Regions from separate parts of the Homo sapiens genome. Here all the other regions are linked to region 2. The links come from fine-mapping of genetic effects on gene expression. A gene starts in region 2. Each other region holds a variant in brackets. All regions are shown on one strand. Distances are from middle to middle.

The links.
Region 1: its variant is fine-mapped to the expression of S100A6 in whole blood (TOPMed, PIP above 0.99).
Region 3: its variant is fine-mapped to the expression of S100A6 in rectum (CEDAR, PIP 0.95).

The regions. Positions count from the first base shown.
Region 1 is chr1:153,563,385-153,569,644 of GRCh38, reverse strand. S100A2 (S100 calcium binding protein A2) reads left to right here and starts at 3,801. Exons shown (of 3, transcript NM_005978.4): 1 at 3,801-4,139; 2 at 5,758-5,911. The coding sequence starts at 5,768. RefSeq lists enhancers at 1,657-2,413, 2,640-2,879, 2,577-3,776, 3,750-3,809, 3,929-4,686 and 1 more. The variant G/A (reference allele first, on the strand shown) is at 3,039.
Region 2 is chr1:153,533,480-153,539,739 of GRCh38, reverse strand. S100A6 (S100 calcium binding protein A6) reads left to right here and starts at 3,749. Exons shown (of 3, transcript NM_014624.4): 1 at 3,749-3,791; 2 at 4,380-4,538; 3 at 4,910-5,141. The coding sequence starts at 4,401. The coding sequence ends at 5,044. S100A5 (S100 calcium binding protein A5) reads left to right here. Exons shown (of 3, transcript NM_001394232.1): 3 at 2,304-2,593. The coding sequence ends at 2,444. It overlaps LOC124904423 (a long non-coding RNA gene), which reads right to left. Exons shown (of 2, transcript XR_007066630.1): 1 at 5,819-6,260; 2 at 2,065-4,836. RefSeq lists enhancers at 3,124-3,759, 5,713-6,007.
Region 3 is chr1:153,314,614-153,320,873 of GRCh38, reverse strand. No RefSeq gene overlaps it. Among named protein-coding and RNA genes, the nearest start is that of PGLYRP3, 4.8 kb to the right of the region's middle. The variant A/C (reference allele first, on the strand shown) is at 3,496.

The DNA.
Region 1 (6,260 bases), 30 kb before region 2:
GGTCATCTTATTCCAACTCCTGGGATTGTTGTGTGAATTAAATGGGGTAATGTACGGAGAGCACCTGACGCACAGCGAGTGCTTCAAAATTTCAGTCTGCACCCCCCAGCAAAGGATATGCACACGCCCATTGTGAGTGACAAATCCAGGATGACCTGAACCCAATGTGATAACGTGGGTCCTCGCATGCTGGTCATGCTGCCGGGAGACACTTATGGATCCAATTAGTACAACAGGGGAAATAAATTATTTAATGCATTTTGCTAAGACAGAATACCTCAGAACTTATTTTGTGGGGCGGGGCATAATAAAGGGGGTCCTTCTGCTGAAAACGTTTAAGCTCAGGTTCGTGGCACCACTCAACCAAGGTCGACAGTCACACAGTAAGCCAGAGGCAATGTCAGGACTTAAACTAAACCTGTGGCCCCCACAATGAGGCCATTTCTCTTTCCCCTGAACGGCCTGGGGAAAGGGGGTGGGTGGGCAGAACTTGGCAGTGGCCAATCCCTCACTTCTGTCCCCTGGTTTTCTCCTGCCCTTATCTCTAGGCTTGCATTGATTGATTGATTGAGACAGGGTCTTGCTCTGTCGTCCAGGCTGGAGTGCAGTGGCACGATCATGGCTCACTGCAGCCTCAAACTCCTAGGCTCAAGTGGTCTTTCCGCCTCCTATCTCCCGAGTACCCATATCCCTAGGCTTTTAAAATGGCTTCCAGGTATCTGGCTGCCGTCTCAGACATCCACCTGGGCTTCTGGGCAGGGACTGTCCGGGAAACCTCATCTATGTGAAGCAGGTGTGGGTGTAGGAAGGCCGCTTGGAAATGAATCAGCACTGTCTCCTGTTTGAGTCGTAAGCAGGGCGCCAGAGGGTCTGGCGGACAAGAAAGGGAGGATGACAGGAGGCCGGCACTGCAATGACACGCCTTAGCCACCAGAGGGCACGAAGCAGCTGGGCAAAATCCCGCGGGGCCGCTGGTGGAAAATTTCTGGCACCTGGAGCCCGGAGATGGGGTGGACGGAATGTGAGGACCCAGCTTCCTGAGGCTGGGCCGGGGCAGAGTCACTGCTTTGGATGTCCGCAGGGCCTGCTTGTGTCTTGACTACTCTGCCTTTGTAGACAGCTGGAGAATGTGAGAGTGGGATTGGGATCGGACTCTAGGGGCCATTCCGTACAACTCTCCTGCCCTGCCGTGGGGGAGGGAGTTGCCCAAGGTTACGCAGCAAGTTAGTGGCAAATGAATACGATTATCACCAGTCTCAGGTATATGGCCATTTGATGGGCGCAGTCGCAGCCTCAGTTCCTGAGACAGAGACACCTGATTAAGGACAGGCCTTCAGGAGCTGACCCTAGTGACCCGCGGCTCTGCTGCTGTCTCTGTTTTTCTCCCTGGCTTTTCCATCTGACTGACTCTTTGTCTTCTTCGTCTGCCTGCCTGTCTCCGTCTCTGCCCGCTGGGGGGTTTGCTCAACTCCCTCACTGGGTCCTGGGAGCCGCAGTTTCCTGCTGTCACTCCTCAGGGATTTGTAGCTCTCTGAAGCTCTTTTCCGACCCGTTGTCTCGGTTCCACTCTTGGGATCCAGAGGAGAGGTGATTATTTCGTAGCATAGTCAGTGGTGTGATTTCACGGGGTGAGAAGGACTCCCTTGCTCCTAAGCACTCCTCCAGTGACCCCTGTTGCCATGTGGTAGCCGTAAGCACTGGTTGGCACCTGGTGTGGGCGAGACCCTTACCTCATGCAGAAATGAGTAAGACCGGTGAGCTCACCATGTGGGGGTGAGGCTGAGAGAAAACAAGTACACAGGTGATTCAGTCAAAATCAGAATTCTCTAAGTACACACGAAAAGGGCAAAAGGGGCGCTTTGTACAGGACAGAACAGGTAGACACTGAATCCGGTTGGGCCCTGGGAAGGCTCCCTGCAGTGGCCTTTGAAGGGGGGGTTGGATTTCAGCAGGATAGAGGGCATGGGCATGTGTGGGCACGTTCTGAACAGAGGGGTCAGCGCAAGCCGAGGGTCTTGGCCACACTAGTTGCATGTGCCGGTGTGTTTAAGGGACACGCAGCAGCAGGCCGAGTCTGGAGCGCCTCACTGCCAGGCTTTTTAAAAATTTTTAATTTTAATTTAATTTTATTTTATTTTTACTTTAAGTTCTGGCATACATGTGCAGAATGTGGTTTGTTACATAGGTATACATGTGCCATGGTGGTTTGCTGCACCTATCAACCCATCATCTAGGTTTTAAGCCCCGCATGCATCAGGTATTAGTCCTAATGCTCTCCCTCCCCTTGCCCCCATCCTTCTCCCCGCAACTGCCCACAGGCCCTGGTATGTGGTGTTCCCTTCCCTGTGTCCATATGTTCTCATTGTTCAACTCCCACTTATGAGTGAGAACATACCGCCTGGCTTTAAGGGACAGCCATGGGGATGCACTGCAGTTTCTGAGCAGGGAAGGCCCTGTGGAGGCCCTTAGTTAAAAGGAAAGAATGGCTGTGAAAATCGATGCATTGCGCTCCCTTGTCCCTCACCCTCAGTGTGAAGGGTTTTTATTCCGAGTTCTACTTGAAGTAGGCCTCGATGGGAAGACAAGTAGCATGAGGGGTTCAAGTACTGAGGGGAGCAAGGGACACTCGGTGGCTGTGCCAAGGTGTAGAAGAGGACACTGGGGGCCCCAAGGCCTGACTTCATGTACACTGCTCAGGCTGGCCCCCAAGTCACACGGTGACCGCTAGGAAGGGACCAGCCTGTTCTCAGTCTGATCCTCCTGCCATGTCATTATCCAAAGCTCCTCCTGGCAGGGCCTGTTTGGGGTCTCTGTGCCAGTGCTTTCCCTGCCAGGCTGGGCTGGGGCTTCCACCTACTGCTCTGGGACTGCTGCTGCCCTGGCCCTGGGGGAGGAGGGTGTGCCGCTGAGTCACTGCCTGGGCATCTGGGCCTGGAACCTCGGGTGAGTCACTTAGGGCTGAGGTAGAGGGGCTGGGGGAGGGGAAGAAGCTACTCGACAGCTGGAGCAGGGAGGGGAGCTGGGGCCACAGGAAGGGC[G/A]GTGCCCTGATGCCCAGACGGGCCGGGATAGACAAAGGGCCAAGGAGGAAGGGGCCCTGGGAGGGGGCAGCCCTCCCTTGGGCTGGGCTCTGAATGGCCACAGTGTTTGCCTTTCTCCGGGTCTGGGGAGGACATGTGTGTGGGGGGCAGTGAGAGAGGGCTGTGGCTGAGGGCTGTGCTTCAGGCCTGGATTCTGGCTTGGGAAGCTGTCCAGCTGGTGTTTTCAGCCTTGGGTAGGGATGTACCCCTACCCACCCACCCAGCCCTCAAGCTGGAGAAGAGGAGGCCAAAGTTTTCCTGTTCAGCCTTTAACTACTCGGGACTTCCTTATGCTCCCCACAGACTGTGGCCCAGCCCAACTGCGGCTGTGTGTAGAGCAACCCCATTTCTCACTGCTTCCCCATCCTTCCAGACACCTTCCTACACAGAGGGACCTTCCCAGGTATTTCTAAGCACACTTAGTTACCTCATTACCTCATTAAGAGGTATTCTGGTGCTGGCCATTAAAAGTCACTCCACTTCATCCATGCCCTGAAGTCAGTCCTGTCCTTCTCCTCCTGATGTCCCCCAGCTGCCTCCTCTGGCCCCCAGCTTCCTAAGGGTGGCCCCAGGTTGCTTCTCTCTCACACACACGGGCGCATGTATGTACACGAGCACTGGACCATGAAGTCTCAGCGTGTGCTCACAGCCTCTCACACAGGAGTGGGCTGTGACTCACAGGCATGTCATGAGAATGAGGCCTGGCACCAGTCTCCAGGCCCCAGAGCAGGGGTTGCCTCCCCTCACCCCGGTCCAGGATGCCCAGTCCCCACGACACCTCCCACTTCCCACTGTGGCCTGGGTGGGCTCAGGGGCTGCCCTTGACCTGGCCTAGAGCCCTCCCCCAGCTGGTGGTGGAGCTGGCACTCTCTGGGAGGGAGGGGGCTGGGAGGGAATGAGTGGGAATGGCAAGAGGCCAGGGTTTGGTGGGATCAGGTTGAGGCAGGTTTGGTTTCCTTAAAATGCCAAGTTGGGGGCCAGTGGGGCCCACATATAAATCCTCACCCTGGGAGCCTGGCTGCCTTGCTCTCCTTCCTGGGTCTGTCTCTGCCACCTGGTCTGGTGAGTACCTCTGTCCTGCTGAGGGCAGGGTGGGGAGGATCCCCGTGGGTCTCTGTCTTTGTCTCCACAGTTCTCTCATTCCAGCTTCCCTGGTGGGATCAACCTGGGCCTCTCTGGGCCTTCCCCCTTGGAAGAACTCTCTGTGAAGTGCTGAAGTGTTGACTGAAGGGTTTTTTTTTTTTTTTTTTTTTTTTGAGATGGAGTCTCGCTCTGTCGCCCAGGCTGGAGTACAGTGGTGTGATCTCAGCTCACTGCAAACTCCCCCTCCCAGGTTCACGCCATTCTCCTGCCTCAGCCTCCCGAGTAGCTGGGACTGCAGGCGCCCACCACCATGCCCGGCTAATTTTTTTGTATTTTTAGTAGAGATGGGGTTTCACCATGTTAGCCAGGATGGTCTCGATCTCCTGATCTCGTGATCCACCCATCTCGGCCTCCCAAAGTGCTGGGATTACAGGAGTAAGCCACCGCGCCCGGCCGACTGAAGGGTTTTTCTCCAGGTTCCTCTGTGAGGTCTCAGTGCAGGGGTTGCTCTGAGGCCCTCCCCTGGATATCTCAGTCTAGGGGCCCTTCTTTGGGGGTCTAGGCCTAGGAGCAGGAGGTGTGCATGTGGGCGTTGCTGCAAAAAGAATCCTGAGATTTTTTTTTTTTTTTGCAAAGTCCTGGATTCTAGCAGGACTAAGGTGCAAGAGGCAGGGGTCTCAAGACTCTGCCTGGGTCATGGCCCCAAGCAGCAAAGCTCTGCCCCCTGCCTCGGTGAAGGCAGGGCTGGCATGATGGGCCCAGGGCATGCCCTGCCTCTGGCATAGCTCCTCTGGCCTCACCCTGAAACCTGCCTAACCTTTCCAGGCTGGTCTGAGTATTCTCAGAGGCCTTGCCGCTGAGGTCTGTCCCATCCTGATCCCAAGGCAATGAACATTTCATATCTTTAATTCTAATTCCAACAGGATCCTTCCTGGTGGAGAGAATGTTAAGTTGCCCCCACCCTATCCATGCCCCTGTCTGCCTAGAGGCTCAGGGGCCTTCAGGGTGAGGGGAGACACATTCCCCACCCTCTGGGAGCTCCTAGTCTGAGAGAGGAAACACTCCTGCCCAAGGGAGCTTCCAGTTAGATGGCAGAGAGAGATGCCTCTGGCTTCAGGAGTCCCGAGTCTAAGGAGGGAAACGACTCCTTCAGGGAGCTTCCTGCTCCTAGGCTGTAGCCATGGCTCCTGCCAGACTGCACAGGAGCCCCCATCTGCCAGCCGGTGCATGTGGCCCTGCTCCCCAGAGCCTGCGCAGATGCCATCAAAATGGGACTCTGGTCACCCTGTCATTTCCCTTCTGGCAGACACTAAAATGGGGAGCCCTGCCCTCAGGGGGGTGTCCCAAGTGCCATCAGAGGAGGCTTGGTGACTCCCAGACACAAGGGAAGCTTTAGCGTCTGCCCTCAGGGTGAGATGGAGGTATCGCCTCCGGCCTCAGGGAACCACAGTCTGAGGGGGAGATGCAGCCCCTGCCTTCCCATTCAGAGAGGGGTTTTGTGAGGTGGCTTGGGGGCATAGGGCAGAAGTGGATCCTACAGGCTGAGCTAAGGCCCCAAGAGCCTCAGCAGTGTACCCATCACCTGGCACCTCTGCAGCCACAGATCCATGATGTGCAGTTCTCTGGAGCAGGCGCTGGCTGTGCTGGTCACTACCTTCCACAAGTACTCCTGCCAAGAGGGCGACAAGTTCAAGCTGAGTAAGGGGGAAATGAAGGAACTTCTGCACAAGGAGCTGCCCAGCTTTGTGGGGGTGAGTGGCACAGGCCTGTGGGGGAGGTCCTGGTGTGAGTGTGGGGGTGCAGGTTAAATCTCTCCCCCAGTTCCGGGTGCCTGTCGATGCAGGTGCCAGGGTGGGGCCCAGCCCCCTCCCCACTTTAGCTTCATGGCTCCACTGGAGTGGAAATGAGGCCCGAGTGGGAGTGCTTAATTAATGGCTGTTTCCTGCAGCATTCCAGAGAACCATGTGCTGTGAGGGCCTTCCGAGTCCATCTGTTTAATCCTGTCATTGGAGACTTGAGAAACCAGAGCCCAGAAGGGAAAAGTGATTGTCCCAAGATCACACAGCACTGGCACGTTCTCTCTCTCTCTTTTCTTTTCTT
Region 2 (6,260 bases):
GAAGGGATGCAGGGTGTCCAGGTCCAGCTGTGTACAACTCAAGTGTAGGGACTCTGCCTGATTCTTCTCTGTGTGCACAGCATGGCCAGGGCTCTCTGATGGTGCTGGCACTCAAACTGAAAGGTTAACTTGTAAACATAGGGTAGTGAGGAGACAGAACTGGTTCTCACCAGATGGAGGTGGTGGGAGGGAGGTGACTGACAGAGGGGAAGGCCCATGAGGTTATTATAATACAATATCCCCGAGGATAAATAAATAAATAAATATATATATATATATATATATATATTTTTTTTTTTTTTTTTTTTTTTTTTTGAGAGAGTCTCGCTCTGTCACCCAGGCTGGAATGCAGTGACATGATCTTGGCTCACTGCAACCTCCGCCTCTCAGGTTCAAGCGATTCTCCTGCCTCAGCCTCTTCAGTAGCTGGGATTACAGGCACGCACCATCACGCCCAGCTAATTTTTGTATTTTTAGTAGAGATGGGGGTTTCACCATGTTGGTCAGGCTGGTCTCGAACACCTGACCTCGTGATCCATCTGCCTCGGACTCCCAAAGTGTTGGGATTACAGGCGTGAGCCACTGCGCCTGGCCAAGGATAAATATTTTTGAGACAGAGTCTCACTCTGTCACCCAGGTTAGAGTGCAGTGGTGCGATCATGGCTCACTGTAGCCTTGAACTTTCAGGCTCAAGTGATCCTCTTACCTCAGCCTCCTGAGAAGCTAGGACTACAAGCAAATACCACCACGCTTAGATAATTTTTAAAATTTTTTGTAGAGATGGGGTCTCACTATTTTACCCAGGCTGTTCTTGAACTCCTGGCCTCAAATGATCCTATCGCCTCAGCCTCCCAAAGTGCTGAAATTACAGGCATGAGCCACTGTGCCTAGTCTTATTATTTTTATAGTTAAAAAAAATCAATGCTCAAATACATCAAATAACTTGCCTAAGGACAATCCGCTAGTGGGAGGCTGAGCTGGAGTTCTGGGCCAGGCCTGTGAATCATCCTCCCTGTTTCCTTTAAAATTTAGCCTGGGTGCCTCTCCATCTATCACACCTTGAGCCCTGGTAGGCCCTCCCAGAAAGAAGGTCCACAGTGTGCCACATGGGCAGGGGACAGAAGCAGGTATGGGCGTCCCCAGGCCTGATCTCTGGCCTTCTGCCAGGCTGCCTGCATCCTGGAGGTTAATGAGGGCAGAGGGAGGGGCCACAGGTCCAGCAGGGATTAATTACAGAAGGAGAGACGCCCAGAGGAGGGCCTGGCAATAACAGGAGCCCAGGCTGGGGACTAGGATCACGTGACAGACAAGCAGTTTCCGCCTTTGTAAGTCCCAATGTCTCCTGTGAAAACCTGTAGCTGACGGCAATGATGAGGAGACATCAGGATCTGCTTGTCTATATTTTCTTCCTGTTCCACCCAAAGGACCCTGACTCCATCGTCCTAATGGAGCCAGGCTGGGACATCAGGGGACTGAACAACAGTGCACAACCAGGCTCCAGGCAGGCCTCTTGCACAGCTCTCCTAGCAGGGGAGGGATGCAGTGGCTTCACAGCCCCAGTGCACTGCTCTCATTGAGAGACATTTTGTCCGGGGTTATTCTCACCTAGTCCTTAGAATGGGGAGAGAGTCACTCAGAGACTTGGATAATGCTCAATGCCACATAATCAGCAAGGTGTTCTTTTTTTTTTTTTGAGAAGGAGTTTCATTCTTGTTGCCCAGGCTGGAGTGCAATGGCATGATCTTACTTACTGCAACCTCCGCTTCTCAAGTTCAAGCGATTCTCCTGCCTCAGCCTTCCAAATAGCTGGGATTACAGGGATGTACCACCATGCCTGGCTAATTTTGTATTTTCAGTAGAGACAGGGTTTCACCATGTTGGTCAGGCTGGTCTCGAACTCCTGATGTCAGGTGATCCACCCGCCTCGGCCTCCCAAAGTGCTAGGATTACAGGTGTGAGCCACCACACCTGACCCAGCAAGCTGTTTTTATCAGGTGTTGGTATAAAACCTAGATGATTGTTTCTTTGGCTGGGGGACAGTATTGCAGGGAAGGCAGGCTAGGCTAGCATTCCTGCTGTCATTTATTTCCATTCAGGAGTCAGGTCCCTGACCCCCTACCTCATGCCAGGCCCTTCCCTAGGTGTGGGCAGTGGGCAGACTCTGGGGGTCGAGATGCTGACAGTGTCATTGACTCAGCTGGGGCTCACCCTGAAGTTTCGGGGTGGGGATGACACCATGCAGTGGTGCGAGGGCAGGGCTGGGAGCGGGGTCTGAGCTGTCTCTCCACCTGGGTCCACAAAAGATGAAGGAGAGCAGCATCGATGACTTGATGAAGAGCCTGGACAAGAACAGCGACCAGGAGATCGACTTCAAGGAGTACTCGGTGTTCCTGACCATGCTGTGCATGGCCTACAACGACTTCTTTCTAGAGGACAACAAGTGACCAGGGCTGCCCTCCACCCTCACCCTCCACCCTTTGCTGCTGACCTCGGCTGCTCCTCTCACAGACCCTCTTTGGCCCCCTGCCCTCCTCTCCCTCCCAGATGGACCCTTCCATGGGAGGAAATAAAGTTTCCATCGCAGGTGCTGGGAGTCTGGTTTTGAAGCTGTCTTGTCTACCTTGGCCTGGGGAGAGGGGAGCACAGGAAGGGTCTCTCCTTGAGTGGGTTGAGACAGCTTCTGCCTCTGGGGGTTAGGGTCCTGGGCTCCCACTGCATTCCTCTCCTTCTTTGGTGTGGACGTCATTGGTTTTGTCATGGCTTAGTTTTGCCTGCCTGGAAAATGGGGAAGTTAGGCCAGGCGGGAACTCTGCAAGGATGCAGAGGAAGTTAAGAGGGAAAGTTGCTTTGAGAGGAGGACACTGGGAGGGGTTGGGAGTGGCTCCTGAGGGCGGTGATAGGCAGGCAGGCCTGACTTGTCCACAGCTCACCGGAGGCCACCTTGGCAGCACCTGTAGGAAGGGCATGTCTGGCCTCCACACCAGCCCCCTCCCTCTTCACCATTTCCCCTTCAATAGCACCACTCTCATCATCTATGGGGGACAGTGCTTTCTTCTCTCCCTGCCTCCTCCATCAAAATCTTTTCTCAGGGGAGGGTCTGAAAAGGCCTTCACTCCCCCGTAAATAACGAATGGTGCTTACAGGGCTGGGCTCCCACGTGCATGCACATTAACACCAAAGGTGCTGTAGTGAATGGAATTTGGGGCACTGAGGGGAAGGAGTGGAGGTGTTGGTAGGAACTTGTTGCTGGTGGGGGATGGGCGCCGTAGATATCCTTTACACCACTGGCTACTCCCCCTATCTCCTCTGGGGTGACCCTGAGTATCCTCTGTGGGACACCGGCATCCTGTGAGGCGCCCTCCTTGCCCACATTGACGCTGCGCTGGCTCGAGGGTCACATTCACGGTCTGGCAGAGGAAGCAGGGGTGACCGCCGCAGTCCTCCTCCTGCTCCCCTTGCCGAGTCACGTGTCACGAAGAGCAAACTGAGCAAACTGAGCTGCGCAGATGAGGGGAGACTCGTCACCAGGCGTGCAGTGGGCACTGCTGGGCTCCCCCATCCCGTCCTAACCCGGAACAGCCCCGGGCAGGAGGCGTGGAAAGTCGAGGGGGTAAACCGCGAATGTGCGTTGTGTAAGCCACGGCGCAGGGTGGGGCGCGGGCGGGACTTGGGCGGGCGGGGTGGGCTTGGCCGAGCTGGCCTCCGGGGCACCGACCGCTATAAGGCCAGTCGGACTGCGACACAGCCCATCCCCTCGACCGCTCGCGTCGCATTTGGCCGCCTCCCTACCGGTGAGTTCTCTCCAGGAGCCCTGGGTACTTTCCAGGGCCAGCTGCCCTCACGCTGGGGGTCCAGCCATCCCCTGCCCAGTTCAGCCGCTGGATCCAGACTGGGGCCATCTGTGGCGCTCCCCCGCTGGAGGGATAGTCAGGAGCAGCAGTGCTGTGCCAGGCAGGCCTTGGGCTAAGGGATCGCAATGGGGTGTGCTCTTTTGGGGTGCGGAAGGGAGTGCCCTGGGTGTGTCATTGCCACCATGTGTGGCCCTGTGAAGCTGTGTTTAAGCTGCCTTTGCAGCCTCCATTCCCCTCCCCTGCCCAGCCATACTCCTCAACTTCTGGATCCCCTGAAGGACAGTTCTCAGCTGTGCCCAAAGCTACTGTTCCTATATGCTTCTTAGAATCCTTAAGCCACCTCTCTTGCCTTGGCCCTAGTGTGCTCTCTCCTTCCCCTTCAAGCCCTGGGCTGTCTCCTGATGCCATTGTGTGTGGCCTGAGACTGGGTGGTTCCAAAGGAGGCGGGGCTAGTGCAGGCAGCATTATTGGGGTGTGTGGGTGAGAAGTCCTTGCTCCCATGGCACTGACTAGGCCCTCTGCTGCCAGCTCCAAGCCCAGCCCTCAGCCATGGCATGCCCCCTGGATCAGGCCATTGGCCTCCTCGTGGCCATCTTCCACAAGTACTCCGGCAGGGAGGGTGACAAGCACACCCTGAGCAAGAAGGAGCTGAAGGAGCTGATCCAGAAGGAGCTCACCATTGGCTCGGTGAGTGGCCTCCTCCCCAGGACCCCTTTTCCCACCCTTGTCCTTTGGAAGCAGGATTAGGGGAGAGAGAGGTGCCAGGTGCATCTGACTCACATTTACCCACATTCTGAGGCCCTGGTCCACATGTAGACCCTGAGCTGTAGACCCACTCTCCCAGCGGGTAGGGGATGCTTCCAGCCGGATATCCATCTCTCCAAATGAGGACCAGTAACTGAGAAGTAGCTGAGGAGAAGCAATGCCAAAGTGACATGGGTCCTTGGTGATGAGGGAGCACAGAGCCACTTGCAGAGAGGATTGCCTGGGAGGGGGAAGGGGAAGAATCCAGGGTTGTCATCACCACTGAGTATGGATTTCACATTCTAACACATTAGAAGCTGCAGGATGCTGAAATTGCAAGGCTGATGGAAGACTTGGACCGGAACAAGGACCAGGAGGTGAACTTCCAGGAGTATGTCACCTTCCTGGGGGCCTTGGCTTTGATCTACAATGAAGCCCTCAAGGGCTGAAAATAAATAGGGAAGATGGAGACACCCTCTGGGGGTCCTCTCTGAGTCAAATCCAGTGGTGGGTAATTGTACAATAAATTTTTTTTGGTCAAATTTACCCTTGCGTCCTGGCTTCCGAATGATTTCTGTTCCTCCTTGGCTTAGTGGGACACCAGCCATTGGAAGATTTGCTCACGGTCAACCTCTGAAAATGACTCATTGACTCGCCAGGCCAGAGGACCCACCCTGACAAGGCTGCCTCTAGCACATAAGGTGCCTTTATGTGAATGAGGAGAGATGCCCCTCTTGGCAACGCCATCCTAAGGAAAGGCTCAAGTGGTTTCCAGTAGAGAGAGTCCTGGGATGAGCTTGGAGATGGAAATGGTCCCTGGGCCGGGATGTGATGGGGTTTGGGGGCCTGGAAGTGAGGCAGAGATAGTCCCAGAGGCTCCCAGATGTGTTTTGCTCTGGGTGTGGCAAGAGGGGCCCTGGGGTGGGGCAAGTCCCCTTTCTCATCACAGCGCAGGGGTTAGATAGGGCACATCTGAGATGCCTGAGGCTTGGCTCAGGGAGTTTCCTACACCAGTGAGGACGCTGTGTGACTGAGTCTACTGCGGCTGCCCAGGTCCCAGGTGGAGTGGGGGAGGCACACTCTTGGAGTGTGTCCCTGCATTCAGGGTGAGGGCTTTTTGTTGGAACGGTGGTCTGAGGAGCTGGCAGCTGCACCAACACGTGAACCACGGGGTGTTCAGTAATGGGGCGGGGTATCCCTGCAGCCTCAGCGTAATGACTCACCCGGCACTTCCACGGGATCCCAGCCTGGATCTCAGCCCCCATCAGAGAAGATGACTAATTGAATCATTGTCCATCATCTGGATTAGTGTTTTCAGGCAGAAGGGAAGAGGATAAGGAGGGTAAACGCTGTTTCCGGGTGATGCCACATCATTCAGCCTCTCTAGGCCTAGTCCGAGCTGGGCAAGTTTACCTCTAGCTTCTGGGGAAGAGATCTTGACTTTAGATGGAGACCACATCCTTCTTTCCCTCTCACCTCCCCACTTCCCTTGGGGGTCCAACTTTGTGGAATTAAGTTGTCTTCTGTCCCCACTGGGTGGGGATTGGTAAACAGCTGGGAGATGCACCTTCTTGGAGGCCCTCCTTCTCTATTGCCTCCCCTGCCCTGCAGGGAGAAGTCGCGCTGTTGGTTGCAAGAGACCGGGGGCCGAATTCCCTCTCTGCA
Region 3 (6,260 bases), 220 kb after region 2:
AGGCCAAGGCAGGTGGATCTTTTGAGCTCAGGAGTTCAAGACCAGCCTGGGCAATATGGTGAAACTCCATCTCTACACAAATTCAAAAATCAGCCAGGTGTAGTGGTGCACCTGGAATCTCAGCTATTTGGGAAGCTGAGGTGGGTGCACAGAAGGCTGGGAGGTCGAGGGTGCAGTGAGCCAAGATTGCACCACTTCATCACAGCCTGGGTGACAAAGCAAGACCCTATCTCAACAAAAAAAGAAAAAAGAAAGAAAAGAAAGTAAGGCAACTAAACATATTGAGTATGCCAAGAGAGTGCTCTTTCAAGATGGCCGAATAGGAACAGCTTCGGTCTGTAGCTCCCAGTGAGATTGACGCAGAAGATGGGTGATTTCTGCATTTCCAACTGAGGTACCTGGTTTATTGGTTCATCTCATCAAGACTGGTTGGACCGTGGGTGCAGTCCATGGAGGGTGAGCTGAAGCAGGGTGGGGCATCACCTCACCTGGGAAGTGCAAGGAGTCAGGGAATTTCCCTTTTCCAGCCAAGGGAAGCTGTGAGAGACTGTACCAGGAAGAACGGTACACTCCTGCCCAAATACTGCACTTTTGCCATGGTCTTTGCAACTGGCAGACCAGGAGATTTCCTCTGGTGCCTGGCTCGGTGGGTCCCACGCCCATGGAGCCCAGCAAGCTAATATCCATTGGCTTGAAATTCTCACTGCTAGAGCAGCAGACTGAAATTGACCTGGAATGCTGGAGCTTGCTGGGGGGAGGGGCATCCACCATTGCTGAGGCTTGAGTAGGCGATTTTATGCTCATAGTGTAAATAAAGCTGCCGGGAAGCTTGAACTGGTCAGAGCCCACTGCAGCTCAGCAAGGCTGACTGCCTCTCTAGATTCCACCTCTGTGGGCAGTGCATATCTGAACAAAAGGCAGCAGCCCCAGCCAGGGACTTATAGATAAAACCCTCATCTCCCTGGGACAGAGCACCTGGGGAAAGGGGCAGCTGTGGGCAAAGCTTCTCCAGACTTAAACGTCCCTGCCTGACAGCTCTGAAGAGAACAGTGGTTCTCCCAGTATGGCATTTGTGCTCTGATAATGGACAGACTGCCTCCTTAAGTGGGTCCCTGACCCCTGTGTAGCCTGACTGGGAGACACCTCCCAGTAGGGACAGAGAGACACCTCATACAGGAGAGCTCTGGCTGGCATCTTGTTGGTGCCCCTCTGGGATGAAACTTCCAGAGGAAGGATCAGGAAGCAATATTTGCTGTTCTGCAGCCTCTGCTGGTGATGCCTAGGCAATCAGCGTCTGGACCTCCAGCAAACTCCAACAGACCTGCAGCTGAGGGGCCTGACTGTTAGAAGGAAGACTAACAAACAGAAAGGAATAGCATCAACATCAACAAAAAGGACATCCACACCAAAACCCCATCTGTAGGTCACCAACATCAAAGACCAAAGGTAGATAAAACCACAAAGATGGGGAGAAACCAGAGCAGAAAGGCTGAAAATTCCAAAAATCAGAAGATTTCTTCTCCAAAGGACCACAACTCCTCACCAGCAAGGGAACAAAACTGGATGGAGAATGAGTTTGATGAGTTGACAGAAGTAGGCTTCAGAAGGTGGGTAATAACAAACTTCTCCGAGCTAAAGAAGCATGTTCTAACCCATCGCAAGCAAGTTGAAAACCTTGAAAAAAGGTTAGGGGAATGGCTAACTAGAATAACCAGTGTAGAGAAGAACATAAATGACCTGATGGAGCTGAAAAACACAGCATGAGAACTTCATGAAGCATACAAAAGCTTCAATAGCCGATTTGATCAAGGGAAGAAAGGATATCAGTGATTGAAGATCAAATTAATGAAATAAAGTAAGAAGACAAGATTAGAGAAAAAAGAGTGAAAAGAAATGAACAAAGCCTCCAAGGAATATGGGACTATGTGAAAAGACCAAATCTACGTTTGATTGGTGTACCTGAAAGTGACAGGGAGAATGGAACCAAGTTAGAAAACACTCTTCAGGATATTATCCAAGAGAACTTCCCCAACCTAACAAGGCAGGCCAACATTCAAATTCAGGAAATACAGAGAATGCCACAAAGATATTCCTCTAGAAGAGCCACCCTAAGACACATAATCATCAGATTCACCAAGGCTGAAATGAAGAAAAAAATGTTAAGGGCAGCCAGAGAGAAAGGTCCCACAAAGGGAAGCCCATCAGACTAACAGCAGATCTCTCGGCAGAAACTCTACAAGTCAGAAGAGAGTGGGGGCCAATATTCAACATTCTTAAAGAATTTTCAACCCAGAATTTCATATCCAACCAAACTAAGCTTCATAAATGAAGGAGAAATAAAATCCTTTACAGACAAGCAAATACTGAGTGATTTTGTCACCACCAGGCCTGCCTTACAAGAGCTCCTGAAGGAAGCACTAAACGTGGAAAGGAACAACTGGTACCAGCCACGGCAAAAGCATGCCAAATTGTAAAGACCATTGACGTTATGAAGAAACGTCATCATAATGTCATCATGCATAAACGTTAGTTGTTTGCATCAACTAACGTGCAAAACAACAAGCTAGCATCATAATGACAGGATCAAATTCACACATAACAATATTAACCTTAAATGTAAATGGGCTAAATGCCCCAATTAAAAGACACAGACTAGGAAATTGGATAAAGAGTCAAGACCCATCAATGTGCTATATTCAGGAGAACGATCTCACATGCAAAGACACACATAGGCTCAAAATAAAGGGACGGAGGAAGATCTACTAAGCAAATGGAAAGCAAAAAAGAAGCAGGAGTTGCAATCCTCATCTCTGATAAAACAGACTTTAAATGAACAAAGATCAAAAGAGACAAAGAAGGCCATTACATAATGGTAAAGGGATCAATTCAACAAGAAGAGCTAACTATACTAAATATCTGTGCACCCAATACAGGAGCACCCAGATTCATAAAGCAAGTCCTTAGAGACCTACAAAGAGACTTAGACTCCCACACAATAATAATGGGAGACTTTAACACCCCACTGTCAATATTAGACAGATCATTGAGACAGAAAATTAACAAGGATATCCAGGAATTGAACTCAGCTCTGCACCAAGTGGACCTAATAGGCATCTACAGAGCTCTCCACCCCAAATGTTGCAACAGAATATACATTCTTCTCAGCATCACAATGCACTTATTCTAAAATTGACCACATAATTGGAAGGAAAACACTCTTCAGCAAATGCAAAAGAACAGAAATCACAACAAACTGTCTCTCAGACCACAGTGCAATCAAACTAGAACTCAGGATTAAAAAACTCACTCAAAACCACACAACTACATGCAAACCGAACAACCTGCTCCTGAATGACTACTGGGTCAACAACGAAATGAAGGCAGAAATAAAGATGTTCTTTGAAACCAATGAGAACAAAGACACAATGTACCAGAATGTCTGGGACACATTTAAAGCAGTGTGCAGAGGGAAATTTATAGCACTAAATGACCACA[A/C]GAGAAAGCAGGAAAGATCTAAAATCGACACCCTAACATCATAATTAAAAGAACTAGAGAAGCAAGAGCAAACACATTTAAAAGCTAGCAGAAGACAAGAATAACTAAGATCAGAGCAGAACTGAAGGAGATAGGGACACAAAAAACCCTTCAAAAAATCAATGAATCCAGGAACTGGTTTTTTGAAAAGATCAACAAAATTGATAGACTGCTAGCAAGACAAAGAAGAAAAGAGAGAAGAATCAAATAGGTGCACTAAAAAATAATAAAGGGGATATCCCCACCGATCCCACAGAAATACAAACTACCATCAGAGAATACTACAAACACCTCTACGCAAATAAATTAGAAAATCTAGAAGAAATGGATAAATTCCTGGACACATACACCCTCCCAAGACTAAACCAGGAAAAAATTGAATCTCTGAATAGACCAATAACAGGTTCTGAAATTGAGGCAATAATTAATAGCCTACCAACCAAAAAAAGTCCAGAACCAGACAGATTCACAGCCAAATTCTACCAGAGGTACAAAGAGGAGCTGGTACCATTCCTTCTGAAACTATTCCAATCAATAGAAAAAGAGGGAATCCTCCATAACTCATTCTATGAGGCCAGCACCATCCTGACATCAATGTCTGGCAGAGACACAACAAAAAAGAGAATTTTAGGCCAATGTCTTTGATGAACATCAATGCGAAAATCCTCAATGAAATACTGGCAAGCCGAATCCAGCAGCACATCAAAAAGCTTATCCACCACAACGAAGTCGGCTTCATCCCTGGGATGCCAGGCTGGTTCAACATATGCAAATCAATAAATGTAATCCATCACGTAAACAGAACCAATGACAAAAACCACATGATTATCTCAATAGACGCAGAAAAGGCCTTCGACAAAATTCAACAGCCCTTCATGCTAAAAACTCTCAATAAACTAGGTATTGATGGAACGTATCTCAAAATAATAAGAGCTGCTTATGACAAGCCCACAGCCAATATCATACTGAATGGGCAAAAGCTGGAAGCATTCCCCTTGAAAACCAGCACAAGACAAGGATGCCCTCTCTCACCACTCCTATTCTACATAGTACTGGAAGTTCTGGCCAGGGCAATCATGCAAGAGAAAGAAATAAAGTGTACTCAATTAGGAAAAGAGGAAGTCAAATTGTCCCTGTTTGCAGATGACATGATTGTACATTTAGAAAACCCCTTGTCTCAGCCCAAAATCTCCTTAAGCTGATAAGCAACTTCAGCAAAGTCTCAGGATACAAAATCAATGTGAAAAAATCACAAGCATTCCTATACACCAATAAAAGACAGAGAGCCAAATCATGAGTGAACTCCCATTCACTATTGCTACAAAGGGAATAAAATACCTAGGAATCCAACTTATAAGGGATGTGAAGGACCTCTTCAAGGAGAACTACAAACCACTGCTCAATGAAATAAAAGAGGACACAAACAAATGGAAGAACATTCCATGCTCATGGATAGAAGGAATCAATATCATGAAAATGGCCATACTGCCCAAAGTAATTTATAGATTCAATGCTATCAAGCTACCACTGACTTTCTTCACAGAATTGGAGAAAACTACTTTAAAGTTCATGTGGAACCAAAAAAGAGCCCTCATAGCCAAGACAATCCTAAGCAAAATGAACAAAGCCGGAGGCATCATGCTACCTGACTTCAAACTATACTACAAGGCTACAGTAACCAAAACAGCATGGTACTTGTACCAAAACAGAGATATAGACCAATGGAACAGAACAGAGCCTTCAGAAATAACACCACACATCTACAACCATCTGATTTTTGACAAACCTGACAAAAACAAGAAATGGGGAAAGGATTCCCTATTTAATAAGTGGTGCTGGGAAAACTGGCTAGCCATATAGAAAGCTGAAACTGGATCCCTTCCTTACACCTTATACAAAAATTAAATCAGATGGATTAAAGACTTAAATGTAAGACCTAAAACCATAAAAACTCCAGAGGAAAACCTAGGCAATACCATTCAGGACATAGGCATGGGCAAATACTTTATGACTAAAATACCAAAAGCAATGGCAACAAAAGCCAAAATCGACAAATGGGATCTAATTAAACTAAAGAGCTTCTGCACAGCAAAATAAACTATCAGCAGAGTGAACAGGCAACCTACAGAATGGGAGAAAATTTTTACAATCTATCCATCTGACAAAGGGCTAATATCCAGAATCTACAAAGAACTTAAACAAATTTACAAGAAAAAACAAACAACCCCATCATAAAGTGGGCAAAGGATATGAACAGACACTTCTCAAAAGAAGACATTTATGCAGCCAAAAGACACATGAAAAAATCTTCATCATCACTGGTCATTAGAGAAATGCAAATCAAAACTACAATTAGATACCATCTCACGCCAATTAGAATAGTGATCATTAAAAAGTCAGGAAACAACAGATGCTGGAGAGGATGTGGAGAAATAGGAACACTTTTACACTGTTGGTGGGAGTGTAAATTAGTTCAACCATTGTGGAAGACAGTGTGGCAATTCCTCAAGGATCTAGAACTAGAAATACCATTTGACTGAGCCATCACATTACTGGGTATATACCCAAAGGATTATAAATCATGCTGCTATAAAGACACATGCACACATATGTTTATTGCAGCACTATTCACAATAGCAAAGACTTGGAACCAACCCAAATGTCCATCAATAATAGACTGGATAAAGAAAATGTGGCACATATACACCAAGGAATACTATGCAGCC